7 linked regions of the Homo sapiens genome follow. The protein of the gene in region 5 interacts with the protein of the main gene of each other region in a biochemical or structural test. Each region holds a gene or a part of one and is shown on either strand. Other genes may lie near its edges.

Region 1 (4,726 bases), on a different chromosome or scaffold from region 5:
GAGGTCAGACTTTTTCATTCAACAAAATGCAGAAAAATGTCTATTCATATTTTACTTAGGTTGTGTCTTACCCACAGTATTCAGAATTTCTCCCTTAGAATTATGATTATTTTTCCTTTTTTTTTTTTTTTTGAGACGGAGTCTTGCTCTGTCGCCCAGGCTGGAGTGCAGCGGAGTGATCTCGGCTTACTGTAGCCTCCGCTTCCCAGGTTCAAGCGATTCTTCTGCCCCAGCCTCCTGAGTAGCTGGGATTACAGGTACGCACCACCAGCACCCCCGGGTAATTTTTGTATTTTTAGTAGAGACAGGGTTTCACCATGTTGTCCAGGGGGGGTCTCGAACTCTTGGCCTCAAGTGATCCACCCGCCTCGGCCTCCCAAAGTGCTGGGATTACAGGCGTGAGCCACCACGACCGGCCTGGATTATAATTTTTAAAATGACACTTTCTTAGTAGAAGTGTATACATAGTAAAGCTACTTTGGATTAATACATTTTATTACCCATTTTCTGGTAAGAACAGATGTTTGGCAGGTGGAACTTTTTTGTGTGTGTGTAAAGGAAATGTATTCATGAAGAAATGGTAGTAATAGCAAGGTAACCTCAGAGTTCCACAATCATTCAATCAAGGGACCAACCTTTTATCTTCTATATTTAAAACAATTCTCCATTCAAGTTTTTCAAAGTCAGTGTTCTAGGTTTGATAAATGATAATGCTGCGTGCCAAATCTTTTATCCCTATGCATGCATTTTTGGAGCATGGCGTTTCTGATTCATTTATTCAGTCACCAAATATTTATTGTGGGCCTGAAGTCCCTTGCCTTATACGTTAAATTAGCATACTCAAAAAAGGGAACAAAGAGATTCAAAAAGTTCTATTCAAAAGTTGGCGTTGATGCTTTCCAGTCCCCCACCCCCACCCCACCTGTCAGCCCAGAAGTGGCCACACCTTATTGCTAGGCCTGGCTCCAGCGAAGCTTGTGTAAAGCCTCAAATCTACCTGTGCCTTCCTCTCTTTCTCTGCCGCGCCCGCCTCCCCGCCCAGCCGCCGCGTGCCTCCGGGGTACCTGTCCCTGCAGCAGGAATCGATGCTGAGCTCATCGATGCCCCAGTACTGGATCTCCTGCAGGAAGGAGAGCGCGCACAGCTGCTCCATGACATGCAGGCGGCCGGTGCGGTAGTAGTGCAGGACATATCGGAACGCCTGCGAGCTGCGGTCGAAGAAGTACTCGTTGTCCACGGGGTTGGCATCGTCGCAAAGCTCCAGAGGGCTGGGCACGGCGGCCAGGGCCCCGGGGCGGCGGTAGGAAGCCACCACCACGGCCAGCTTGCCAAGGCGCGTGTGCGGGAAGCAGGACAGCGCCTGCTGCGAGAGCACGAAGCGGCTGCCGCCCACGTTGACCGTGAAGCAGTCCCCGAGCGCCAAGGGCTCCCCTTCACCCTCGCTGCAGAAGACACTAGAGTCCAGGGAGGTCAGGGAGCCGCTGTCCAGCGGCGAGTCCAGCAGCGCTCTGCCGCTGGAAGGCATCTCTAACCCAGTCGCCGCGGCCTGAGGGCGCCACAAAGTTGGGGACACGCCGGAAGCTTTGGTCCCGCGAGGGCGGTGGCACGGCCCCTGGTGGCGGCCGGGATTCCCCGGGCTCCCGAAGGGGTTACCTCTCCTTGGCGCACCCTCTCCACCCGCTGTGCGCCTTCCTCCTCCTGCCGCTAGGGAGCCGGGAGTGCGCGGAAGCAGCGCACAAGTGGCAGAAAGAGGAGACAGGGAGCAGAGGAAGGGTCGCGCTAAGAGAGAGGATCAGGTGAGGTCCAAGCCCGACACAGTCCCTGTGCACACTGCCGGTCGCCCTGGCCCTTCCCAAACGTTGTCACCCCGCCTCCCAACTTCGCAATTGCGATTCCCAGCCCAGGAGGTGTACAGATTGAATGACTCGCTACTTGGTGGGTGGAGGGGTTGGGGAAGGGAGGAAGGAGGGAGATGTGGGGCGGAGGAGGAGGAAGAGGAGAGAAGATGACTCTTAGCTGAACGCAAGCAAGCAAGCAAGCAAGGGGGATGGCGAGACTCACTCCTGCCCGCAGGAGACCAAAACAAAAAGTTCAGAAAGCAAAGGAAGTGGTAACCGGGTCCCTTCCAACTTGAGAATTTATATTCCTCCCTTTTCTTTTACTGCTGCTTCATAGGCCTCCCCCGGGGTGTTCGCTGGGGGTGTGAGCAGGTGGGGGAGGGTTCTCTGGGTGAGGGGGCCGCACCATTTTCTCCCAATTCACTCTCATTCTAGTCTGATGATCACTGACGCTCCATTTTCTTCCGCCGTCTCCCTTAGGTTCTGACCTCCTGGTTGAGAAACAAGAATAATTAATGATGACTTTTTATTGAAGACCCAGTGGGTCACTAAGAACTAGGAGTGTCACTGTCAGCTCCCACCCTGTCGAGGGTCCACCTCGTGTTGAGGCACTTTTTTGAGGCACCCTTCCTTTTAACCATTTCTGTCCCTACAAGTTTCCCGGAGAGCAGGTGTTCTGAGCACAGCGGAGCTCTCATTTTAGAAGGAAAGGCAAAAAGACAAGGAATAGAACAAGCGTGGGCTGGGGCAGGAATTTAAATAGTAACGACGGCCTCCCTCGGTAAAGGGAGAAGCCGAGGCCAGCGCCCAGGTGAGACTAGAAGTGTACCCACGGGGCCCCTGGAAGCTGCGCTCCAGCCAACCTGTTGGACTCGGGGTGAGGAGGTGGGGGTGGGAGGGAAGAGCAAGTGACTCACCTGCAGCTCCCGGCACATCTGGTCTGCGCACAACCGGCGCCGCAGGTAACGTACTCTTCTTTTGATCCTCTTAGTCTACACGTGAGGTCTGACTCGACCGGTCCAGGAGGGAAACTGTGTTCCAGCTGAGCTCTACCCAGCGCCTGCTGCCTTGCCTTGCCCCGCCTCCACCTCCCTCCGGGCTCCTGGCCCCTGCGCTTACGCTAAGCGTGTCCGCCCCGCCCGCTCTAGCTCTGAGAGCCACTCGCCCAGTGCTTCCAGCACCAGCAGAGGGGAGTGGCAGGATCTAAGGGAGGGAGGTGAGACGGCGGGGGTGGAGGCGGGGGGTAGTGAGGTGCCCGGTGACACTCAATATTACATTCATCCTGAATACACTTGCAGAATTACTGCATTTGATTCCCGTTTCCCCGGATCTGTGCTTTTGTAAATGCTCCAGAGCAAAATTTCCAACTGGATCAGTGTGCTAAACTTGAGGTTAGGGCAGTTATATTAACTGCTTCATTTGGCATGGTTCAAGGTTTTCACATTTTCAGCAGGCATCTCAGAATCATGCATTTTTCAAGTCTTTGCCAGAGAGAGTGAACCACACTCATCTTCGTTGTTTTCTAGTATGTATATATAGAATACATATTGGAAAGCATATATTATGGATACACTTACATATATAAGTATATATTAGAAAGCATACACACACACACGTATTAGGTAGTATATATAAAGACATAAGCAGGCAGCCTGATGTAGTAGAATAAGCTTTTTCATAGATTGGACAGAAACGTGACTGTTTAGTTCTAGCTTTGCCAACTGGCTGTGGGACGTCTAGCTATCATTTACTTTGAGGGTCTCAGTGCCTTCCTCAGTGAAATTTCAAGCTTTAATGAAAACACCCAACATTTAATGGGTGCTTACTTTATGCCAGGAAATTTGTAGGCTCTTTATTCATGCAGTACCTTATTTAATCATAATGACAACACTATGAGGTAGCATATATCCATTTTACAGAAAGGAAAAGTGAGGCACAGGGAAATTAAGTGATTTGCAAAGGGCCACACAGTTCAAATCAAACCCAGGACTACATGTCAGAGGCTGCCTTCATAAACAAAATTCTAGAAACATTATTTTTTGTTGATAAATCAGTGTGATTGTTTTTATTTTCTTTGTTTACAAGTTTCTAATGAAGGACAGGAGTTTAATGAGGTATTTTCATCACTCTTTCAACAAAAGTTTACTGAGCATTCACTATATACTGGCACTATTCAAGGTACTTGCGATGTATCAATGAAGAATAGACAAGATCTCTGTTGTTGTGGAGCTTATAGTAATCCTCTGAGAATAAATGGGGGACTTCAATAAACTTTTTTAAACTATAATATTTATAAGCATGGTTCTTTTGACAGCCATCCATTTGGTTAACTTTTCTCCTTAAAGAACTCTTCCATACAGTAAATACAGAAATGCTAGAATTATCCCAGTCAACAGTTCTTCATTCTGTATAGGTACTGTATCGTTATTATTTTTTAATGTAGCAGAGCTTTCCCCTGCACAGCAAGAAAACTCCTCCAGCATCTCAATTGTAGATTATATAGGTATTGAAAAAAAGCAAAAGGCCATAGTTCTGTTAAGGCTTATTCATACCATGATTAGCAATGAAAGTCTATACTAGCTTTACAGATTATGGTGAGGAAAGAGGAAAGCATTCAAAGGAGAATGCCAGCTTTAGGTGAGGAGAGAGATCTTGGACAGGTAACCAGAGGTTAGTGAAAGATGACTGAGGCTTCCAGGTCTCCTCCCCTGCCAGTAAGCCACTGAACCTCAGTTATGATGAATGTTGTCCTGTAGAAGTAGTTATAATAACCTCTCCTTAAGAGTCAGGCTGTTTGCTACACATCTGACTTCTCACAATGATCCTATGAAGTAAGCATTGTAATCCTTAGTTATAGATTTCAACTTGGATGCTTATAGGCACTAAGA
Region 2 (3,929 bases), on a different chromosome or scaffold from region 5:
GCGTTGGCGTCCTCTTTGGCGTTGCACTTTTCCTTAACGGCTCTGCCATCGGTAAGTTTCTCGGCCACACCTGGTGTCCTCACAACACAGACGGGGTCCTGGCCCTGGGTAGCTCCTCTCATTAAAAGCTGAATGGTGTTGAATATTCAGGCTGACCCTCTGTGGGCCTGGCTGGGCTGCCGGGGCCACCCTGGCGGTGACCACCCCTGGCAGCGCCGAAGCTGGCCCCATGTGGGAAAGCCGGAGGAACCTGTTCACAGGGAAACGCTTCCTGTTGTGATGGTTTGTTTTTAATGCGTATCTGACACCACGTCCTGTTTCCAGCATTCTTTCAGAAATTATCTTGTCTTTTTTTGTTCTCCTTTTCTTCGACTTGGTGTTAAAATGTCCAGAACCTGGTTTGATGTTTGTGTTTTGCCTTCTTGGTTGTTGTTTTCTTTTGAATTAAAGCAACTCTGTGTGGGAAAATAGTTTTTGCCTTGAGGGCACCCATCAAAACTGTTAAAACATTTTTCTGGCAAGAACTTTTTGAGACAGAGGAGCTTAATCTGTGTTCTGAACTAGAGGAACTTGCCCCGGGCCTGCACTGATGCGGAGGGAGCTGAGGGAGTTAAGCGGCAGGAGGAGAGGCCCCGGGACGCTTCTCAGAGCCTGAGTGGGCACTGGCCATGGGGTGGGCTTCGTCGCCAACAGGCGATGCCTCTGACTGCGTGTGGGGGTGCGGCTGCCCTGGCGCCTGCTGGGCGCGGAGCTGCCGGCCCCCTGCCTGTCCGTGTCCCTCGAGAGCAGCCCTCCCCTCCCTGCTGGAACAACGTGGCTTCCCAGGGCTGTGTCCTTGGGGGTGGTCCTGCCCAAATGTGACCCAGATGGCAGCCAGCTTGGGAGCCCCAGCCCCTCTGCCTCGGAGCCGTCGCCTGCCCGTGGTCTGAGGAGGCCAGCAAGGACCACCTGGGCAGAAAGCCCTTCTCCCGCGCCTCCCACGGACAGGTGTGTCTGTGTTCAGGCCTGGGTCCCGGGCTCTGGCCCGCAATTCCTCTAATCTTGTCAGGAGGGCACTGCTTGTCTCCCTGGTGGGAAGTGGAGACCCAAGGTGAGCCTCAGCCATCAACATTGATCTGGATTCAGGGGCAGACTCCCCTGAGGCAGGAGGGACATGGGTGGGACTGCTTTTGAGTGCCGGCAGCCCACTGCAGGAGGACTCGTAGGTGAGGTGCGGCCACTGGCATCTTTCTCTCTAGAGCCACGTCTCCTGAACCCAGGCTGCCCCGAGAACTTGTGTGCAAAGCCCCTAAAGTTTGGGGTGTCGTTTCCTTTCAGACCTAGAGCAGGCCCAGCGAGACCCCCTGCGCCTGCCTCGCGAAGCCTCATCAGTGTCCCCTGCGGGTTGTCTGTGGCATGAGCGCCTTTCCCTGTGGGCGTCTGCACTACCATGTGCGGCCTTCTTAGCGACAGTGAATTCATGCTTCCAGCACAGCAGCCGTCCTCTGATGGCCGGGGTAGAAAGGTCTATTCTTCCCCTTTCTGTTTGAAAAACATCAAGGGCGCGTAAACCCTTGGAGGTCTGATAAACAGCTAACCGAACGGGGAGAAAAACCCTGGAACCCTCAGAAGTGCGTGGAACAAAGCCCAACTCCTTTCCGCTGCCTCTGTGCCTAAGAGCCTCTCTCTTGTGCTGGAAGGCTGGCATGGTTTTGTGGCCGTGCCCCCTCCGCATGCCCCTTCCATGTGGCTGTTTGCTATCAGGCCCACCCTGGCCAGTGCTTGAGGACCTGACCGCCCTCCCGTGTGCTCTGCGCAGGTCTGGCCCTCGGCGATGTCCCCAACCGGCAGCCCATTGGCATCGTGCTCACGGTGCTGGGAGTGGTGGTCCTGGACTTCAGCGCCGATGCCACCGAGGGGCCCATCCGTGCCTATCTGCTGGACGTGGTGGACAGCGAGGAGCAGGACATGGCCCTCAACATCCACGCCTTCTCTGCCGGTAACGCTGCCGCACCAAGGCTGGGTGGCCGGGTTCCAACGTGCCCGGGCCTGGTGTGGGGAGGGGACAGGAGCCTGTGTTGTCAGCGCTGCCTCATCAGGCTGCATGGAGGGTTGAGGCAGTGGGCAGGGTCTTAGGGCTGGAAGGTAACCAGGGGCAGCCCCTCCTGACCACCAAGCACAGTGGGGCCAAGGCACTGAGGAGCTTCAAGGGGCAGGAGGCCAGGCCTGCAGAGGGTGACATGCATGCTGGCACAGTGAACCTCCCAGCCCTGCACTGACCTTGCCCTCCAGCAGGGCAGTACTCCCATCCAGGGTGAACGTGGCCAGCTCCGTATGCAGAGGGAATGCCCTTCAGTGCAGAGAGGCGCACACTTGCATCCGTCCTGGGGTAGTCTGCCCTTCATTGATCAAGGGGCAGTTCTGTCGGGTCAGAATTCTCAGACCCAGCAGCAGCTGCAGTTTCTTGTTTTGTTTTCCTACTGCTTTCTCCTTCTCCAGCCCCTGACTCCCATCATGAGGGCAGCCCCGGCCCCCTGTTAGAGGGAGAGGCCCTCCCAGAGCTTCCCCCCCTGTGGCCTGGTGCCACCGGCTCACCGGCTGCTGCTTCCTCCCACGCAGGCCTCGGCGGAGCCATCGGCTACGTGCTGGGTGGGCTGGACTGGACCCAGACCTTCCTGGGCAGCTGGTTCCGGACCCAGAACCAGGTGCTCTTCTTCTTTGCCGCCATCATCTTCACGGTGTCCGTGGCCCTGCACCTGTTCAGCATCGACGAGGAGCAGTACAGCCCGCAGCAGGAGCGCAGCGCTGAGGAGCCCGGCGCCCTGGATGGGGGCGAGCCGCACGGCGTCCCTGCCTTCCCAGACGAGGTACAGTCGGAGCACGAGCTGGCCCTGGACTACCCGGACGTGGACATCATGCGCAGCAAAAGCGACTCGGCATTGCACGTGCCGGACACCGCGCTGGACCTGGAGCCCGAGCTGCTGTTCCTGCACGACATCGAGCCCTCCATCTTCCACGACGCCTCCTACCCCGCCACCCCCCGCAGCACCAGCCAGGAGCTCGCCAAGACCAAGCTGCCCCGCCTGGCCACCTTCCTCAAGGAAGCCGCCAAGGAGGACGAGACCTTGCTGGATAATCACTTGAATGAAGCTAAAGTCCCAAACGGAAGTGGCTCCCCCACAAAAGACGCCCTCGGCGGCTACACCAGGGTGGACACGAAGCCCTCGGCCACGTCGAGCTCCATGCGGCGGCGGCGGCACGCGTTCCGCAGGCAGGCCTCCAGCACCTTCTCCTACTACGGCAAGCTTGGGTCCCACTGCTACCGCTACCGGCGCGCCAACGCCGTGGTGCTGATCAAGCCGTCGCGCAGCATGAGCGACCTGTACGACATGCAGAAGCGGCAGCGGCAGCACCGGCACCGGAACCAGAGCGGGGCCACCACCTCCAGCGGGGACACCGAGAGTGAGGAGGGGGAGGGCGAGACCACGGTGCGCCTGCTGTGGCTCTCCATGCTGAAGATGCCCAGGGAGCTGATGCGGCTGTGCCTCTGCCACCTCCTCACCTGGTTCTCTGTCATCGCCGAGGCCGTGTTCTACACCGACTTCATGGGCCAGGTCATCTTCGAAGGCGACCCCAAGGTGAGTGCTCGGCCACCGGAGCGGGGCCGCTCTCTCTGCCCACCTGCGGCTCACGGAGAAGCTCACGGGCTGGGCCGGGGGGCCTCTTCCTCGTGCCCACGCGTGTCAGGGAGGCCACACAGTGCCTCCCGTGCAGGTGAGGGACCCGCGGCAGGCAGCTGGCCCGCGCGCGCCTCTGGGAACTTGGTGGGGGCCGTCCTGGGGTCATGGGGTGGGTTGCAGTGAGGCCCGCGGTGAGCAGTCGTGAATGCTGATACTGGTGTGAACGGGGTGTCTGTTACTGTGTGTCAGACTACCCCAAAACGGCAGCTA
Region 3 (3,929 bases), on a different chromosome or scaffold from region 5:
TACAAGTTTATCTATATCCCCCTTGGATTGCAGTCCCTATAAGAGCAGGGACCATGTTTGTTTCCACAGGGACTGACACATAGTAAGTGTCAGGTGATATTTTTTGAATGAATAAATGAATATGCAGGAAAGGCTTTACATTTTATTCAGTGTTCATTTAGATTCCCGGACATTATACTCTCTTGATTATCTTCCTTCCTCGTTGTCACCTCCTTCTGTCTCTTTGAGGTTTCCTCGACATCCTGATTTGCTAAACCTTTCTACACCTCAAAGCTCAGTTAATCCTCATTTCTTCTCCCAATACTGTTTCATGGTTTTAAATATCAAGTATATGCAGATAATTGACACACACACACTCACTTATATTTCTTTATGTGTACATGTGTATATCTCTATTGCTGACCTGCTCCTCTGTCTCGCAGAATCAGATTCCTATATCCAACTGACCTGACTGCCTAGAATCTCCATTTGAATAGTAAATAGGCATATCTAAAACCACAATCCTGACTCTACCTCCATTCCCCTGGCCCACCTTCCCAAGTATGCTCCTTCCAGTCTTCCTCATCTCAAGCAATAGCAATCCCATCCTTCCAGGCCAGGCATCTTGGAGTGATCTTTGATGTCTCTCTTTTTTCTCATATATGACATGTGGATCTGGTTGACTGATTTCTCCACTTCAGTCCTTGCCAGCCTAAAGCCTGTTCTCCACACAGCAATCAGGACAGACAATTTATAAATCAAGTTGTGTCATTCCTTTGCTCAAATTCCTCAAATGGCTTCTCATTTCTCTGAAGATTGAAGGCCAAAGTTCTTGCAGTGACCTGCAAAGCCCTGTATAATTGGTCCTTCCCCCTCCCTGAGCGCACCTCCTGTGCCTCTTCCCGCCTCACTCTGTGCTAGCCATTCTGGTCTCTTGCTTTTCTGCATGTACACAAACGTGGGAGTCCCCAGAGCCTTCCCACTCACTGAACCCTCCCCTTAGAACACTTCCCCCAGTCTCTGCACAGCTTGCTTCCTTGGCTCCTTCGGGCTTTTGCTTAGAGGTCACCTTCCGAGTGAAGCTTTGCCAACCACTCCCTTTGTTGAATGCCCCTCCCCTGCTCCCTGTGCCATGCTCTGCCTTCCTTCCTTGCTTTATCTCCCTATCACTTAGTCTCCACCCGGCATGCTTATGCATTTGATTTTGTTTGTTTATTTGAGACAGGTAATATATCTAGAACGCAGGTGTTGAGAGTGCAGTTTGTCTGTTTTGTTCACATTGTGTTTCTTGTGCCTAGAAGAGTGCCTAGCACATAATAGGTTGTCAATAAATATGTTTTTGGAATGAATAAAGACTTAGCAAAACTCCAAAATGTTACTGAGTTTGCATTTGGACATGTAGTATGTGAATTCTTATTTATTTTATTTCTTTTTGAGACAGAGCCTTGCATTGTCACGCAGGCTTGAGTGCAGTGGTGCAATCTGCGCTCACAGCAACCTCCGCCTCCCAGGCTCAAGTGATTCTCCTGCCTCAGCCTCCTGAGTAGCTGGGATTACAGGCGTGTGCCAGCATGCCTGGTTAATTTTTGTATGTTTAGTAGAGATGGGGTTTTGCCATGTTGCCCAGGCTGGTCTCGAACTCCTGATCTCAAAGTGATCCACCCACCTCATCCTCCCAAAGTGCTGGAATTACAGGTGTGAGCCACTGCGCCCAGCTGAATACTTATTTTAGTTTATATAAAATATGTACAGTATGAAATATGTTCTTCCTTAGACCTCCTGCCCACCTTAAATTCTATTTCATTTCCGTTAGAACTGCTGTTAAAATTTTTGGTGCCTTTTTTCTTTGCACCTTTTTTACCTTTGGGAAGCTGGTAACCAAGTAACAGTAACCAAGACAATGTGTAGTACAAATGTATGAAACAATTTCCACTAAGAGATGAGATCATGATAATTAACAGACAAGTGAAAGGGCAATCAGACTGGTCGATAAGAGAAGCTATAAAAAGATAATCTGTATGGATGATGTTTTATTTCTTAAAACGAATGGCTAGTATATGGATGTTCCTTATTATGTATTTTTATTTTTTCATGTCATAAATATTTCATAACCAGTTAAAAAAAGATCACAAACATTGACCGTGATGAAATGTTAACAGTTGTTTATTCTGAATGATGAGAATATCAGGATTATATTATTTTTACATTTTCTCTTTTTTATTACCAAAATGACAATAAAAGAACACTATGTATAGACTTTAAAAATAGGTAATATGTATTCAGTCTTGTGAAAATTTGGTTTGTGGCAAACCTACACTGCTTAAAACAATACTAAAAAGCATACACACTGCTCAAAGCAACACTTAAAAAACAATTTTTTCTTTTTCTTTTCTTTTCTTTTCTTTTTTTTTTTGAGATGGACTCTCACTCTGTCGCCCAGGCTGGAGTGCAGTGGCGTGATCTTGGCTCACTGAAAGCTCTGCCTCGCGGGCTCATGCCTTTCTCCTGCCTCAGCCTCCCGAGTAGCTGGGACTACAGGCGCCCGCCACCATGCCTGGCTAATTTTTTGTATTTTTAGTAGAGACGGGGTTTCACCGTGTTAGGATGGTCTCGATCTCCTGACCTTGTGATCTGCCTACTGTGGCCTCCCAAAGTGCTAGGATTACAGGCGTGAACCACCGTGCCCGGCCAAAAAACAATTTTTAAAAAGCAAGTTTCTTCATTGGAGGCATAGGATTCATTCTAGACTAGTTACAGTATGGTATAACTCTATTATTTAATTTTAATTTTGTGTTTCTTCATACACCTGAATTTAAGTGTCAGAATACTGTTCCATGCCAAAAGTTTTATGCTGCAAGTTAGGGTTAAAGCTAAAACCTGTTAGAATTGAGAATGATGGCAGTAGCAGCAGCAGGGATCATTAAGTGGCATTTCGGCAGAAGCCTGGATTTTAATGTATTGAGTGGGGCCTATCACTAGATAAGAGCCATCAGCAAAGTGAGTACCCAGATCTAAAGAATTTCTCCGTAAATTGTTAGTGTTCCTTCCCATTCATTTCTTCCAGGTTAAGCGTTTTATGAAGTTCATTGTGCCTTGATGTTCTTCATTTCTTTAGTTACTACCAGGTCAAGTAATCTAGCACAAAGGTAATATTCAGTTTCTTTTGTTCTTTGCTTTGTGAAGGGTCCTGTCTTCTTATTATAGTTAACAATATGCTGATTTAAGTATGGGCAATGCTAGCGTTGATAAGATGCACAGATGCTGTTATTCAATGCAGCTATTTTCTGTTACAGAAAGACCATATGGTAGGCACTTGTTTTTCTGTCTAGTTGATGTGATTAGATTACTAAAACGAAAGGTTATTGGACTTAAAGATTGTCCTACTATTTTATCTAATTTTAATTGACTGTAAGTAATTAAATGTGTTAAAATATTGTAAGCCTTCCATATCTTCCCTGGTTTGAAGTAGAAAGATATCTAAATGCAAAAAACTCAATTTTGGATTGCTTTCACTAAAATAGTTTTATGGTTTAAGTTGCCATGTTCTTATAAAATTGGGTATTGTGCAAATTATTTCACAATCTAATCTGGATGATGGCATTTTGTGCTTCTCAAATAATCCAAAAGACAAATGGATATATTGTACTATAGGTTTGAGAAACTTGATGTGGGCTGGACGTGGTGGCTAATGCCTGTCATCCCAGTACTTTGGGAGGTAGAGTCGGGAGGATTGCTTGAGCCCAGGAGTTTGAGACCAGCCTGGACCAAATAGGGAGACCCCCATCACTTAAAAAAAAAAAAAAAGAAAAAAAGAAACTTGATGTGATGGAAATGTTTTATAAGTCCTCTTCTAGTTATCTATTTAATGTGCAAGAATTTCCACTATGTAGATTTGTGAATAAAAGAATAGATTGAGAACCCAAATTTGATATTTCTGACTATTCATCTGT
Region 4 (3,929 bases), on a different chromosome or scaffold from region 5:
GCTTGGAGCTTGGCAGCCGCGGGGGCGCGCGGGCGCAGCCAGGGTGGGAAAGTCAGTGGCAGAAGACACCCTGGGGAGGGATTCCGGGCCAGCCCGAGTGCACGCGCGCGGGGGCGGGACGGGGAGGGCGCTGGACCCGCGGTCCCCTCCTGAGCCCTGCAGCCCGGCCTTCTCGCCACACTCCGCCCCCTCGTCCCCGAGCGCCCCCAGGCTTCTTTCTCACGCTTCGAACCTCCGCCCCAGCACTCCGATGCGGCCCCCTCCGCTGGGACTAGGCCTCTCCACTCACGGCCTCCAAACTCCCGCTCCGGAGTCCTTGTAAGGGGGCCTGGTTCCCCGCCACCCCGCCCCACACACACACCCACCCCCAGTCCTGCAGATGCCCCAAGGAAACCCCACTCGCCTCAAGGTCGGTGGAGGCGGGGGCGGGGAGGGTGTCTGGAAGTGGATGCCTGCCTCACCTCCTCCCTAGAGGACACTGGCACCTTCCAACCCCACTCTCAGGAAGGCCCTCTGTTGTCTAACTTAATTCCCTGTTCTGCATCATAAACCTCTTGTTTTGCCCCCACCGGATGATAATGCGTCTGAGCAATGCTTTTCAAATGACAGAAAAGGATCTCCAAGGACAGCAGGCAGCCCTGCTTGCTCAGCTTCTTCCTGTGCCCTTAGCTTCTGATGACAAAGTGAAGTGCTTATATCCCCCAGCCCTAAAATCACACCCCGTGGTCCAGTAACCCCATCGTGATTCGGCCATTGTCGCTAACAATAGTACTAGCTGATATTAACTGAGCATCTACTATGTGCCAGGCACATTTCATCCTCACGGCCTGTCCTATGAGTCACGTACTATTATAGGTCCACATTGTAGGTGAGACAACTGAGCCTAGAGAGGTTATGTAACTTGCCTAAGAGACCCAGATCTACCCACCAGGGCTCCAATTAGTGCTGGGAAGTTATTTCAATTAGCCTTTATTTTTGGCCAGCTCCTAGGATTTGTGGCCAACCAGGATTTGTTCTAGAGCCATGGTTTTCAAACTTGAGAGCGCATCAGAATCCCCTGGAGAACAGTTACGGCTGGCTCCGCCCAGCCCCTGGAGTTCTGATTCAGGTCTGGAGTGGAGCCTGAGCTTTTACATTTCGAGAAAGTTCCCAGGGAATGCTGTGCGCAGGGACCACACTTTGAGAACCACGGTGCGAGAGGATTTGTGCATACTAACTACGACTTTTATTAGAATGCTCAAAGGCAGGTATAATGTTCCCATTTTATATATGATGAAACTGAGGCTCAGAGAGTTGACTTGCCCAGGGCCACAGAGTAAATGGTGAATTTGAGACTGAGCAGTTACTATAGGATAGGAGAGGTATTTTATATACACTGTCTCATTTAACCCTCATCATAATCCTATAAGTTACTATTTTTATTCCCAATAAACAAATGAGGAAACAGGCTTAAAAAGATTACCTTGCTCATGGCCACACACCCAGTGAGTGGAATAAGCAGCGTTCAGATATTAGCCCCTTTCCACCACTCTGTGACCAACCACACTCTCCAAGAAAAACACTGCTATCAGGGCTTAGCACTCCATAGAACTCCTGCCTTTCTGTTTACCTCTGCCCTCCTCCGCCCCATCTCCCCCAGAGGTCTAGGGACAGAAGCCAGACACAAGATCCCACTCTCCAGTCTGCAGCCAGCACTAGAACCTTTTGGTGGGAGATACCAACTCTGCTTCCCACCCTCCACAGCCCCCACAAACAGGAAGTGAATGCAGAGCAGTGGACAGGGAAGCTGTCAGACAAGGCAGCTTCCTGATAGCTAATGGCCTCCCTCAGGGCACCAAGGAGTGTGGCAGCTCCTCCTCATCAGCATACCGGTCCAGGAATCAGGGTCCTGGAGGAGATGGGGGAACTCAAATCCGTGCCCAAATCTCCCCACCTCAACCCTAGCCAGAAAGAGATATTCAAGAGCACAAAAGATGCGTGCGAAAAGGAAATCTTATTGATTGCTTTAAATAGAAGCAAAAACGAGCAAAAGATGGGTCCAGAAGAGAGGGGAACACTGTATCTTTAAGGTCTGGCTCATGACACAGTACACGTTTCTGCCTGGTTTGTGTGCACCTATGTGGATGACTTAAGTCCAATACACTCAGGACTCTGCAAGTGAAGCATTGCCATTTCCTCAGTAGCTGGGAGGGGAAAATGAAAACCGGCAGAAATGGTTTCACAGAGTCCAGAGCCCTGCCCGAGTGAAAGCATCAGAGAGGGTGGGCAAGCCTGGCTTCTTCAGTGCACAGCCCTCCCAGTCGGGAGTCATGCAGTCCTGCCAGTTATGTCTGGGAGGGTCATGCACAAGAAAGCCGAGGGGCCTGCCTCCCATTGAACTCAGTGTCTCCTATGAGGCTGCTCTGGGGGAGAGGGGGGAACCAGGGGCAGGTGTTGGTCCACAAAGGCCGCCGGAGGGCTGCTTCAGGATGACCAAGTCCAGAGAGGACTGGTGAGCATGCGCAAGGCAGGCCCCACTCTGCCAGCTGACCTTGAGAAAGTCAGAGGTGCCACATCCGGTGTGCATATCCCCAAGCCAGGGCAGGGATGCCTCTTTCCTACTTCTCAAGCTTGGTGTGAAGCCAGAACAGGAGATTATAAAACACAAGAGGGGCCGCCGTGAGTGGGCACCCTGCAGGTAGAGGAGGGTGGTATTTGAAAGGGGAGCAGGGGACAAGGGTGTCCCTCATCACAGGTAACCAGGGCACCCCTAGCTTCCCTGAATAACCAGTGTCAGCCAAGAATGTCTCCAGGCCATTCCCACATTGATCTGTATTTTCACCCTCTACCACTTCTTGGCTTATTTCCATGTGGCCATTTCCCCGGAGTAAAGAAAGCCTTGCTTTGCTGTTTTCTAAAGTTAATTCTAGAATGTTAAAGTGTACGTGTGTGTGTGTGTGAGAGTGGGGGGCCTCTTTCCGGCATTGTGGAATTGAGGAACAACTCTTCCCAGTCCTGATCCTGTGGAATTCCATCCTGAACCCCAAAATCTTGCTTTTCCTCACTAAAAAGCCACTCTCAGAGCAGCCATTTTCTTTGCCTTCTCTGAAGTCCTGGCCCCCTGCCATCCTCATCTGGGGTTTTGTCTGAGGACTGACTCAGGATCACTTTTGTTAAAGTGGAAAAGTATTCAGCACATGCAAATCATATTATTAAATATTCACACCAGCAGGAATCTTATGGCAGCTACCATATATCCCAAGGCAAATGTGGAGGCAGAAAACTTTCCACCACCTTTTCCCACATCCAGGGATCACTCACAGCCACCCCAGGATGCGGGGAGGAAAGAGGGGCAGGCTGGTACCCACTCTAAATATAGCTCTGAGGGCTTGCTGGCATGGCAAGTGGACACACGGCTGACTTTAATAGGGAGGCTGATACACTCTGGCCCAGGGAGAGTTAGAAAGGCTCAAAGTTAGAGCTGGGGGGCAGAAAGTGGGCTGAGGCCAGCAGGACAGGACCCCTCCTGGGGTGCAGGCCCTGGGGGCTTTGGGAGGCAGGGATGGGCCAGGTAAGGCCCCTGGGCCCAGAGACAAAGGAAAGATTTCAGCTTTCTCTCCCTAGGCAACCTACCTGCTTCCTGCCCATCCCCAGGAGCTTTGCTGGTATGAAAGCATGCCCCTGAGACAGCATGGGATGCTCAGTGAAACCAGCTTTGCAAACAAGTCCCAGCAGCATGCCTGTCCCTCCTCTTACAGGCCAGAGAGCAGGTTGTGTTGGCACGGCCCACCCCTGGCTTATGCAGAGATCCCTACACCTCCTTGAGGACTGGCAGCAGGGCAAGGTGGTCTGCTGTGCCCAGTCTCCCTCTCATGCTGATCCCACCAGAAGGGGGCCAGTCATAAGAGCTTTGGAACTCCAGCCTTCTCTCTCAGGTGCCCCCACAGGCT
Region 5 (3,929 bases):
TATAAGATGGAGAAACACAGAGGCCCACATATGCTCTTGACTTAGCCAGGATACTACTGATGACTGTAGAGACCAATGAAGGCAGCTGGGAGCCAGATGCAGCTAAGGAAGTAGTCATAGCCATGCATTCATTCATTTCATCGGTCAACACTGTACCCCCCAGGCCTCCTTCTGGGCTCCGTACTGAATGAGCAGCAAGGCTCGGTCCCTGCCCAGGAAGCTCACAGTCAAGTGGGGAAGGTTACACAGCAACACCCCATGACCACACTGTCTGGGGAGTATTGCCTTGCAGAAATGAAAGTGCAGGAGGGAAGGCTCCCAAAGTCTGGAAAAGATATCCCAGATAAAGCATCATATTTTGATGTGGGGATATTTTGAAGTGGCTATACCAAACAAGCCTTGTCAAAATGGAAAATCACTGTTCTTTAAACCCATTGTTTAAACCTACTTTAAAATCACTGTTCTTTAAGAGAAATGAGAAGCGGAGGTCTCTAAGCAGTGCAGTCTGAATATCTTCCTTACTAGATGGTCCTTAAGGTCCCTGTAAGACCTGAGCTTCTTCCAGTGCAGCTCCATCGGATGATGACCAGGAAGGGGGCCACCTGAGGTCAACTTTGGATACACTGTTCTATCCATCTTTCTCTTCTTTATCTCCTAGTCACCCACTAGGGCTCGGTTCAAATGCCAGTCCCTCCCAGAAGCCCTCCTAGATCTCCCTGCAAGGCATGGCCAGCCCTTGCTAGGCTCCCAAGGGTCTCTGCAAAGCACAGCACCCTGCCCAGCACTGACTTACTTCCAGCCGCAGGTGGGGCAGGGACTGTCTGATTCATCTCTCTCCTCCCTCCCCGCCTCTCCTCCCCAGCCCCTATCCCCACACAGGCCTTTCTTAGCAAAGCACATTGAAATGAGTGCAGCAGCCATCTAGGAGGATGCCGTCGGACAGGAATCCTGGGGGCAGCAATGAGTGGAGAGTCTGGAGCTGCTCAGTGTCCAGAACTTCCCAGGCCACTACCCTCCCCCTGCTTTCTCTCAGCTCCACTACTAGCTTCACCAGACGCAGCTCTTCTGCTTGCCCCTCAGTTTTGTTTTTTTTTTTTTTTTTTTAGTGCTTGAAAAGTCAACTGCAAACAAAGCAGCGCACTCTCTTTGTGGAGAAAAGCACATTTTAGTGGGAGTTGCATTTGGAGAGCCCAGAAGCCAGCAGCAGACTGGAGATCACACTTAAAGGACCATGGAACTTCTGAAACAGGCTAGTTGTAGGGCAAGAAGATGATACTACTATGCCCTTACAGGGTTGTCAAGGAGCATTTCCTGATTTTTTACAGAGTATTTGGGCACTGAGAATATAATTTCCCTCAAATTCAGTGAGCCAATCTCAGTCTAAATTAGTGGGAAAATGTGAAGACATAAGTCTTCCACTATGTGTCCCTTCTTTGTCCAGAGCACATTCACTGTGGGATCTTCCCTACGTCTGAGAACCGGCAATGAATATTTTAATAGCCACAGCTTCTCCTTCCCACTGACAAAACCTCCACTGGACTCGCCATAGCATGCTGGTGGAAATGAGGGTATGCACCAGAAAGACCTGAGCTTTCTCCTAGGCAGCCTAATCCCTGAGGGCCCCACCCACATCTGTACAACAGGAGTGATAGGAACAGCCCCGGCACCCTTCAGAGCAGCAGCCAGGATGCTGAAGGAAGGAGGAGACAGAAGACATGTGGCCTGAGGATCTGAGGCCAGTGACCCTGGAGAGCTGGGTTCAAATACAATAGAAACAAAAGGGAGTTGCAAAAGTAGAGAAAGTAGAGAGCCAATGGCTGAATGGCGGCCACCCTAAAAAGATATCCAAGTCTTGGCTGGATGTAGTAGCTCACACCCGTCATCCCAGCACTTTGGGAGGCTGGGACAGGAGGACTGCTTAAGCTCAGGAGTTTGAGATCAGTCTGAGCAACATAGCAAGGCCTCATCTCTACTAAAAATAAAATTTAAAAATTAGCCAGTTGGTGTGCGCCTATAGTCCCAGCAATTTAGAAGGCTGAGGTGGGAGGATCACTTGAGCCCAGGAGATCAGCACTGCAGTGAGCTTGATCATGCCACTGCACTCCAGCCTGGGTGACAGAGCCAAACCCAGTCTCAAAAATAAATAAATAAATAAATAATTCCAAGTCCCAATCCCAGGAACCTGTAAATGTGATCTTATTTGGAAAAAGGATTTTTACACCTATAATTAAATTAATGATCTTTAGATGACGTGCTTATCCTTGGATTATCCAGATGGACCCTAAATCTCAGGACAAGTGTCCTTATAAGAGTGAAACAAAGATTTGAAACAGACAGGAGGAGGCAACGTGACCAGGGAGGCAGAGACTGGAGTGATGCAGCCACAAGTCAAGAAATGCCAGTGGGCACCAGAAGCTGGAAGTGACAAAGGAAGGATTCCCCTTAGAGACTCCAGTGGGACAGCAGCACTACCAACATCTCGATTTTGTACTTCTGGCCTCCAGAACTGTTCAAGGACACAGTTCTGCTGTTTTAAGCCAAGATTGAGGTGATTTGTTACAGCATTTACAGGAAAAAATACAGCACCTAAGAAGTAGTCAGACAGATGAGGGATCTGAGTCCCAGAGAGGGGGCTCACTCACCCGACCCCACGTCAACCACTGGGCCAGGACACTCGGGTCTCTCTGACGCCAAAGTGCATGCAGTTCCGTAGTGGCCCAGTGCACAGCTCAGAAGGGGGACCCACCGGGACCTAACTGGCCTCAGGCTGTGCTAACGCAAATATAGATTCCGAAGTGAGGCTGCAGTGGGCTTGCTCCTGTCTGGGCTGATCAGACCCCCACCTGCACAGCGGTGTCCCATTCTTAGCTTTTCAGGGGGCCAGATAAAGTGGGCATTCTGCCTAAAGAAGTGAAGATGTGGGGGCCTGATCCCTGTCTTTGAAGGTCCAAGTGGCCTAACTAGCTGTCATAGGGAAGAAGAAATGGATTTTTTGTGTGTGGGGCTTCAAAGGACAGGATCGGGCCAATGGGGCAACCATTGCCGAGAGGAAGATTTTTGGCTTGGAATAATGAAGAACTTTGTAATAACCAGAGCCAACTGAGGATGGAATAGGAAGGTGGTGGGGGTTGGTAGGTCCAAGCAGAGGGAGGCTGGGTATGCTAGGGGAATTCCTGCACCACACAAAGGCTGTACTTGATCATCTCCGGAGCTGGCAGTCTTGTTTGAGGGTCTATGCTGGTAGCTAAAATATCTGGAAACATATGTGTGAATCTAGGTTTTCAGCACATAAACAAGGCACACTCTCACTAAGACACTTATTACGCAGTTTTTGCAAAGAGCTAAGTACTGAAAATAACCAGGAATGAGCTTGAGAAAGAGACCGTCTATTCTTCCATCTCCTATACATAAAATGTCCCTCACCCCAGGGAGAAAGAAAGAGGCCAAGTATGTATCTCCACAGAGACATCATCTTCTAACCAGACCAGGAACTAACAGCACATTCACAGGTACCAGGGGAGCCCTGGACAGTCTGGAGTGGTGTCTTTTTCCAGGGAAAGCCAGAGAGAACAGAGACTGCAGCTACTAAATAAATTATTTTTATAAGAACGAATAAATGCCATCCTCGTCTTTAATAATTGTTTTTCCTTTTGCATCCTTCTGAATTCTACATTGGAGCAAAGAAAACAACAAAGCAGTAACTCAGAAGCTTCACATGTGAATAGTTACAAGTCAGCATCAGACAGGGGTTTCAACTGGCAGGGGAGGTGGGATTGTTATCGTTGGTTTTAATACAAGCTGTAGCCTACACCCTATATTCTAGATACTCAAAGAACAGGAAGCACAGCATTTCTCAGCTGCCTGCACATCTGTCTTCTCTTAAGTCAAAAATCTCAGAGAATGATGCACTGTTGCATCCAGATGAATTC
Region 6 (3,929 bases), on a different chromosome or scaffold from region 5:
TCTGCTCGCCTCGGCCTCCCAAAGTGCTGGGATTACAAGCCACCACGCCCAACCAGCCTCCTCCTTCTTGTTTGAGTCTCACAGAAAAGAAAAGTCAGATTTCTTTGGGGCCTTAGGACTAGGCTGATGGGGCTGTGGTCACCAGCTTAAGGTTGTGTGGATGACCATGGGCAGTGCTGGTGAGAGTGGAGGTGTGCACACAGGGAGGGGAGCCCAGGGCCTGGCCTCCACTACTCTGAAGGGCACAGAGCTGGGGTGGGGGCATCTCCAGCCCTCACCTCCCCCAGTTCTGCTTCCCCAGGGGCTCTGGAGGGCCCTTGGTCCACAGGCTCACCCTAGGCTGACCCACTTTACCCCACTCCTCACCTTCGGCCCCAACCTCCCCTGCTCACTACACGCTTCCTCCCTCCTGCAGACACTTAGTGAAGCCGACCAAAGACCATTAAGATAGCAATCGATGGTCCTGAGAGCCGGAGATGGGGCTTAAGTGCAAGTTCCTTTACCTGCTGAGGAAAGGTAATGGACCACGCACCATTAAGCGTGGGCCTGAGAAGTGTCTAGGGCCCTGTGCCACATGGCAGCTGCCTTTCTATTCCCCCATGCAGTCCCTGCCCTCCGCATCAGGCTCTAACCTTTTAGTAGCTGCAAACCTTAAAGTGAGATTCAGGAAGGAAGCAGGGAGCCAGCCTGGGGTGGGGATGCCTGGGAGCAAAGAGGCAGGAGGTGGGTATAGTCACACTGTGCACGGGGCACTGAGGTGGGCCGAGACAGCTCTGCAGCTCTGCTCAGGCACCAGCCACTCTGGGAAGGGAACTGCAATCAATAACTCATATTTATCGAGGACTGACGGCGCCAAGCGCTTTCATGGCCGCTAGCATCAAGCTGTCCGCGCACAGGAACGGCAATAATGACTTCACAGTGTGGTGTGTTTGCAAGTTGTGTTTTGCACAATGAGTGAGATCTTACGTGGAAACAAAGGGTTTGTGTGGTCAGATGGGCCTGGGGAAGCAGGGTCAAGAGGGCTCCTGCTATGCTAGTGTTCCTGGATTCTCTATGGAGCTGTGGTATGTGGTGCTGTTCCCACATTTATTTGTCTAAGAATTCTTGTTTGCTCCACACGCCTCCTGGGATTGCTGCTCTGTGGGACACGTGCTGGGAAACGATGTTCCAGAGGGCCTGGTGGGGAGAAGTGGCCTGTTCTCCAGAGGATGAGACGGCAGTGTGCCCGATGGTTAGGGCTGTGGACTTGCGGGTAAAGATTCCCCGGGTTGGGACCTCAGCCCTGCTGTTCATGAAAGCACGTGGGAGGATACGGGAGAACTTGGGCGAGTGATCTGACCTCTCTTCTGCCCCGGTTTCCTCATCTGCAAAAGGGGGACCAGGATCACTCTGCTGTCACAGGCTTGTTGTCAGAACAGCGCCTGGTAGGAGAGGAAGCCTCGGTGTGTTACTGTCACTACCTCGTGCAGGATGGCCCACGGTCAGGACCCTCAACACACAGCCCGGATCTGGGGACACTCTCTGAATGCCACAGTGGCACTTGAACCCCAGACCCGCCGCTTGGGAGCTGTGTGGCTGTGGGCAAGTTCTTAACCTCTCTGAGCCTCAGTTTTCTTAGCTGTAAATTGGGATGATCATGTATCCTTTGTAAGATTATTGGGAGAATCAAATGGGATGAAAATTTAAAATGCTTGCCACTTGGCGATGCTCAGTAAACAGTATTTTTGAGCTCCTTCCTCTCATCGGCGGGCGGGGGGGCATTTGTTCGTTGGGCTAAGATGTTGATTATCAGGCATCTCATCAGAAAACAGAAAGAGAGGAGAAAGGAGCTGTAGGAATTCTGATGTGCACCTTCTAGGAGGCAATGACCAGAAGCTCATGGAGAGGTCCCACCCCTGCCCTCGAGGGAGCCTTACCATCCAGCGCAGCCACAGGCTGGTCTCACTGGCTGTGCGCAGAGACACATTGGCTGGGGCCATGTCAGGGGGTGCCTGCAGGGTCTGGATCTTTCTAGAAGGCTGACTGGGGGGGCTGGTGCCCACGATGTTCACCTGGCGCATGCGGAAGCTGGGGTTGGGGAGAGATGAGCAAGATGGTAAGGGCAGCTCACCCAACTCTCAACCCTGTCCTGGTCTGGGCCATAGCCCCCACCCACCCCCAGCCCTGAGGCTGCTGCCTTCTCCCCGGGCCAGTCTCATTACCTGTAGCAGGTGAAGGGGTTGAGGTCGGGCACCTCCATGGAGCGGGCATCGGGCTCATTGGAGAGCTGGTGGATCAGCAACCACTCCTCTCCCTCCCCAACCACGCCTACCTGGAAAAGGGCAGGATCTTAGGCCTGTCCAGCCTACAGGGCCCACACGGGGTGCTCCGAGCCCCAGTACAAGCCCTGCCAGGGAAGAAGTTGGTTCAGAACCCAGGGCTCATCTGGAGGGCACCATATGGGGCTACCATCTTTCCAGGCCCCTAAACATGACTGCAAGTGTGACTCAACCCTCCTGCCTTAGAATCTCTCAGGATGCTTGTGATCAATATATTCCTGGATTCTGGAGTCAGAATGAGTTTAAATCTAACTCCACTACTTACAGAATCCCTCGAGTGCTGCCCAGGAATCTGTGCTTTTAACAAGCAGCCCAGGTGATTCTCTTGAACACCCCGGGTACTTCCAGAGACCCAGGCTGCCCCTCAAATCAGCTAAATCAGAATCAGAGTTTCTGGGGTAGGGGCACAGGTGTTGGCGCTTCTGAACGCTCCCCTGATGATTCCAGGGTACAGCCAAGGCGGATATTTTTATATTCCAGCAACTGGGTATTTTTCTAGGCACCCCCCGACCCAGGAGGGGACTGTAGTGTGTGTGTGTTTTTCCATGTACACAGGTGAGGGGCAGGGGGAGTTGGAGACAACATTGGCAAGTGTGAGCATTTGGAGTATAATGGGCCATTGAGAGCTGCACATGAAAATTCACACAGGCCGAAATACACATAAGATTTTGCACTCAAGGGCACGGGGTGCCCTGGCGGGGGCTGCTGGTCAGGCCCCAGGCCTGCCCTACCTGGGCTTCCACCAGCCAGCGGGAGATGGAGGTTTTCCCATCGTAGCCTGGCCTGAACTGCAAGGTCACAGAGCGGGGGCCGATGTTGGAAATGCCCAGGTTGGTGGGGGGCCCTGGGAGTTCTGGAAAAGGAGAACAGGGTGGGGAAGGAGATCCGGTGAGAATGGCCCCCCATGTTGAACGGGACTGTTGGGCATGGAGGGGGCTGTGTGTCACGCTTTTCCTGGAAATGTCTGAGGAGAAGCACAGCCACGGCCCCACTCCACCCACAGTCTTTGTTCCTGTGTCTTACGGAGAACCATGTTCATGCCAGGAGGCTGAGACAGAGTTGGGGGTCAAAGGGGATCTCCTAGGGCTGAGAGGAGGCTCTCAGGGCCAGGAAACAGGGGCCGGGATGCCGCCTTCTTCCTGGCAGTTCTGGATGTGAGTGAGGTAATCATAAGGCAGCTAAAAGCTGCATTAAAACCAAGCTGTGCTGAGAAAGAAACCAAACGGGACCGATCCTCCCTTCCATCCGCCCAGACCCCTGCACACCTCCTACGCCTAATTACAGCTCAGGAAGGTGAGAGGATGGGTGGGGACAGGGGGAAGCTTATTTTCTGGCCAGGAATCCTGGGGCTCTTGGAGCTCAGGAACAACAGAAAGAACACAGATTCTGGAGTCAGAATGAGTTTAAATCTAACTCCACTACTTACAGGCTGTGTGTCTTTGCACAAGTTATCCAACTCTCTGTGCCTCCATGTCCTCCTTGGTAATGAAGAGGATAATAGCAACACCTCCCTCAGGGTTGTTGTGAGGATTAAATGAGTCAACGTGAGCAAAGCTCCCAGCACCATGCCCCGTGAACACTACATACCTATTTGCCAGCATGGCTGTAATT
Region 7 (3,929 bases), on a different chromosome or scaffold from region 5:
GAGGGCACAAGGACAGAGCAGGGCTGGGCCTGGGCTGAGCGGAAAGCAGGGAATTTGGCCCGGCCTGGGATCTAGGCCCTGGGGAGAGGTGGTGGCTCTGGAGGAGCATGGGTGCCTGGACCTGGGTGGTCCACTGAGCAAGGGACAGGCGGCTACTTCTGAGGGCAGGACAGCAGCATCCTGGAAGTTGTGGCACCTATGTCTTTAGGAACCAAACATCCAGGGAAATCGGAACCTGAGCATCAGAACCTCTATCAGGGCGCCTCCTGGATTTCTACACAGGACAGTAGCTTTCAAGTTTTTTGACCAAAATCCGTAGTAAAAGCAAACATCCTGTTTGTTATTTTAACTTACTTTATATTTATTTTTTAGAGACAGAGTCTTGCTCCAATGCCCAGGCTGGAGTGCAGTGATGCGATCACAGCTCAATTGCAACCTCCTGGGTTCTTGCCATCCTCCCGCCTCGGCCTCCCAACGTGCTGGGATTACAGGCGTGAGCCACTGCACCCGGCTATATATTTAAAGCTGAAGTAAGAGCGTCACAAAATAATATTTACCCTCACTACATGCATAGTATTTTGAAATTTTCTTTTTAATTTCATTTTCGGAAAACAAGTAGTGCAACTCACTAAGTCAATTTCCCAACCCACTAACGGGGCAGGACCTGTGTGCAATTTTAAAGCACTGGCCTGAGTGGGGGTTAGGAGCGGTGAAATGGGATCCGGCGTGTGTCTTGAAGCTGTGACGGGCGGTGCTTGGACTCCGGGCTTTGTGACACACAACCATGTGGGGAATTGTTGGATGTTATGGGGGAATACTGGGAAAAGTCTGTTAGACCCCCCAGCTCACAGGACCGCCACTCTGCAGCCCAAATAACAGGGACTCTTTGGGGTCTGGTTCCAATTTTTTCCCCGGGTCTTTTAATAGAGCCCCCTCCTGCCCTGATAACAGATGCCATTCAGCAGTTGCTTACACATCTCCCAGGACAGGGCGCTCACCCACTTCTCAGGCAGCCCACTTGACTGTGAGGAGTAAGCTCTGCCGGGCTGCTGATGTAGCTGCTAAGTGGGGCCCCGCCCGTGGCTGGCTGGCCATTCTCCTCTGTCCTCTAGCCTGTTGTCTCAGGGAGCCGGGACAGCTCTGGCAAGTGGTCCTCTCTCTGCCCCACCCAGTTCTCTCTCTCTGCTGCCCAGCCACTGCCGGGTGTCTGTTGGGGGCAGCCTTGGAGCCCAGCCAGAGAGAGGCCCTTTCCAAGGTCAGGTGGGCTCAGGATCTGAAGCCTCATGGCGGGGCTGGCACTCAGCCAGCCTTGCCCACCAAAGCAGTTCTGGGGGCCTGGGTGAGGGAGGGCCGGGGGAGGCTCAGCTGTCCAGAGAAGTGGTACCCCAAGGCAGTGGCTGGTGATGGGGGTCTGGAAATCAGGCCCAGCAGTGCCCTTGAGTGGTTGGGTCACAAAGTAGTTCATATCAACGAGCTATGATACATTCATTCACTCACAGGCTCACAGGATCTTCCCAGTCACCCTCAGAAACAGATGCAAAGGGCCAGGCACGGTGGCTCATACCTATAATCCCACCACTTTGGGAGGCTGAGGTGGATGGATCACATGAGGGTCAGGAGTTCGAGACCAGCCTGGCCAACATAGTGAAACCCCATCTCTACTAAAAATACAAAAATTAACCGAGCATGGTGGTGCGCACCTGTAGTCCTAGCTACTTGGGAGGCTGAGGCCAGAGAATTGCTTGAACTGGGAGGCGGAGGTTGCAGTAAGCTGAGATCGCGCCACTGCTCTCCAGCTTGGGCAACAGAGCGAGACTCCATCTCAAAAAAAAAAAAAAAAGAAACAGAGGCAAACGCCCACCCTTACGGGGCAGGGGGTAAAGGCTCAGAGAGGTGAAAAACCTGCCCCAGATTCCGCAGCTGCTAAGGGGTGGAGCTGGACATGAACCCAGATCTTCTGTTTCCCAGTCACGGGCCTCGCCTGGGACAACTGAGGCTGGAGGAGCCTTGGGGTAGGGGAGGGGGAGGTGGGCCACTCCTCCTGTCTTGCTGAGAGCAGGCTGGGTTTCTCTGCCCCAGAGGGCAGGGCGAAGGAAAGAGGGAGTCAGGGATCAATTAGCAGAACCTTCCAGACACGAGTGGGCTTCCCCGGAGATGGGGAGCTCCCCGTGAGGAACAGTGAGGAGGGACTTGAGGCCCATTTCTCAGGATAACTGCAGAAGGGTATCCATGGGCACGAGGTTTGAAGGATGCCCAAAGCCCCTCTGCCTGCTCCATTTCACCCCCAGCCAGGGCCTCTCCAGCCTGTGCCCACCACCTCCCCTGTATGGCCCCAAGGAGCCCCTAATTGCGGACCCCATCCCATTTGTCTCCCAGGCTGAGTGGTACCTTCACACTCACAGGGCAGAGGGTCCTGGGCTTCTCAGGCCTATGAGGAGAGGGGAGGCTCCTGGGGGAGTCTAGGGTGGGGGCTGGGAGAGGAGCTGCAGGGGGTTGGGGGAAGCTTCACTGAGGTGTCCCAGGGGCCAACTCTGCCACCAACTTGAAGATGGGCACACCCCTCCCCTAGGCCTGAATCTCCCCATCAGTAAAATGGGGTCAGCTCCCCACAGCACATGCACCCTCTCCTGTGGCCCAGCTAAAGAACCCTCCCGTCCGGGTGCAGTGGCTCACCCCTGTAATCCCAGCACTTTGGGAGGCTGAGGCAGGCGGATCACAAGGTCAGGAGTTCAAGACCAGCCTGACCAACATGGTGAAACTTCGTCTCTACTAAAAATACAAAAATTAGCCAGACGTGGTGGCACACGCCTGTAGTCCCAGCTACTCGGGAGGCTGAGGCGGAAGAATCACTTGAATCTGGGAGGGGGAGGTTGCAGTGAGCCGAGATTGCACCACTGCACTCCAGCCTGAGAGACACAGTGAGACTCTCAAAAAAAAAAAAAAAGAAAAGAAAAGAAAAGAAAAAAGTAGCCGGGCATGGTGGCGCATGCCTGTAGTCCCAGCTACTTGGAAGGCTGAGGCAGGAGAATCGCTTGAACCCGGGAGGCAGAGGTTGCACTGAGCTGAGATTGTGCCATTGCATTCCAGCCTGGGTGACAAGAGCGAAACTCCGTCTTAAAAAAAAAAAAAAAAAAAAGGAACCCTCCCATCCCTGCAGCCCGGGTCGCTGGTGTGTGAGCTTCTCCCAGGACAGGCAAAACAGGAAAAGGCTGAGCACGCCCCACCATCCCCATGGGTGGCCCCCGATACACAGAGGGGCAAAGAGAGGCCCCCAGATGGACAGTGGCCTAGTCAAGGTCATGCGGAGCCAGTGAGGGGCTGAGCTGGGATTCGATCCCAGGCCCCTGACGCAGGCCACCCTTCCTACTGCTGTGACCAGGGAGTGCTGCCCTTCCCCTCGCTCCGATCTGGGGATTTTCTGGGGAGAAGGAGCTTAAAGAGACCCAGACCCTGCTCGCCTCCCACAGACCCCACAGCTCTGGGGAGTGTCAGTGAGAGAGGAGGGGCCGGCAGCCCTGGGAGCCATCAGGACACAGAGGAGTCAGGAGCAGCTCCGGGTTGAGAGGCTCTGCCACCATTGCTGAGTGACCCTGGGCAAACCCTGGTGGTCTCCGGACTCGGTTTCTCCATCTCCCAGGAGAGGAAATGGAGAGAAGGCCAATGCAGCCGCAGACAGGAGCTGCTGGGCCAGGCTTGGTGGGGGCTTCTCCTCCATCCCAGTCCCAGGGAGCTCCTCCGCCCAACTGCACCTCCCATGCCCCAGCTCCCCTCTGCCCTGCTGGGGGCCCCCCAGGCCTAGACCAAAGCTCCCAGCTGACAGGTCACCATTACAACGCTGACTTCTCCCTCCACAGCTCCTGCTGGGGTCGGGAACACCAAGGACCCCCTTTCCTGGTAGCCCCTAAGGACCTCTTGACCTGCCAATGTCT

What was found.
Region 1: the proteins of FRMPD1 (region 5) and KCNV1 interact in a test that uses a peptide from one of them, tested with the Homo sapiens proteins (one large-scale study listed by IntAct).
Region 2: the proteins of FRMPD1 (region 5) and SLC45A4 interact in a test that uses a peptide from one of them, tested with the Homo sapiens proteins (one large-scale study listed by IntAct).
Region 3: the proteins of FRMPD1 (region 5) and ARHGAP21 interact in a test that uses a peptide from one of them, tested with the Homo sapiens proteins (one large-scale study listed by IntAct).
Region 4: the proteins of FRMPD1 (region 5) and SCN4B interact in a test that uses a peptide from one of them, tested with the Homo sapiens proteins (one large-scale study listed by IntAct).
Region 6: the proteins of FRMPD1 (region 5) and SDK2 interact in a test that uses a peptide from one of them, tested with the Homo sapiens proteins (one large-scale study listed by IntAct).
Region 7: the proteins of FRMPD1 (region 5) and KCNJ4 interact in a test that uses a peptide from one of them, tested with the Homo sapiens proteins (one large-scale study listed by IntAct).

The regions. Positions count from the first base shown.
Region 1 is NC_000008.11:109,972,864-109,977,589, forward strand, and holds the start of KCNV1 (potassium voltage-gated channel subfamily V member 1), read right to left. Parts: upstream 2,909-4,726; 5' UTR 2,756-2,908; intron 2,330-2,755; 5' UTR 1,526-2,329; coding exon 1,065-1,525; intron 1-1,064. UniProt on the Homo sapiens protein: Potassium channel subunit that does not form functional channels by itself. Modulates KCNB1 and KCNB2 channel activity by shifting the threshold for inactivation to more negative values and by slowing the rate of inactivation.
Region 2 is NC_000008.11:141,217,699-141,221,627, reverse strand, and holds part of SLC45A4 (solute carrier family 45 member 4), read left to right. Parts: coding exon 1-51; intron 52-1,798; coding exon 1,799-1,978; intron 1,979-2,598; coding exon 2,599-3,617; intron 3,618-3,929. UniProt on the Homo sapiens protein: Proton-associated sucrose transporter. May be able to transport also glucose and fructose.
Region 3 is NC_000010.11:24,713,493-24,717,421, reverse strand, and holds part of ARHGAP21 (rho GTPase-activating protein 21), read left to right. Parts: intron 1-3,929. UniProt on the Homo sapiens protein: Functions as a GTPase-activating protein (GAP) for RHOA and CDC42. Downstream partner of ARF1 which may control Golgi apparatus structure and function. Also required for CTNNA1 recruitment to adherens junctions.
Region 4 is NC_000011.10:118,145,960-118,149,888, forward strand, and holds part of SCN4B (sodium channel regulatory subunit beta-4 isoform 1 precursor), read right to left. Parts: intron 1-3,929. UniProt on the Homo sapiens protein: Regulatory subunit of multiple voltage-gated sodium (Nav) channels directly mediating the depolarization of excitable membranes.
Region 5 is NC_000009.12:37,657,091-37,661,019, reverse strand, and holds part of FRMPD1 (FERM and PDZ domain-containing protein 1), read right to left. Parts: intron 1-3,929. UniProt on the Homo sapiens protein: Stabilizes membrane-bound GPSM1, and thereby promotes its interaction with GNAI1.
Region 6 is NC_000017.11:73,396,119-73,400,047, forward strand, and holds part of SDK2 (protein sidekick-2 precursor), read right to left. Parts: intron 3,172-3,929; coding exon 3,050-3,171; intron 2,312-3,049; coding exon 2,202-2,311; intron 2,068-2,201; coding exon 1,917-2,067; intron 1,365-1,916; coding exon of another isoform or gene 1,290-1,364; exon of another isoform or gene 925-1,289; intron 1-924.
Region 7 is NC_000022.11:38,445,131-38,449,059, forward strand, and holds part of KCNJ4 (inward rectifier potassium channel 4), read right to left. Parts: intron 1-3,929. UniProt on the Homo sapiens protein: Inward rectifier potassium channels are characterized by a greater tendency to allow potassium to flow into the cell rather than out of it.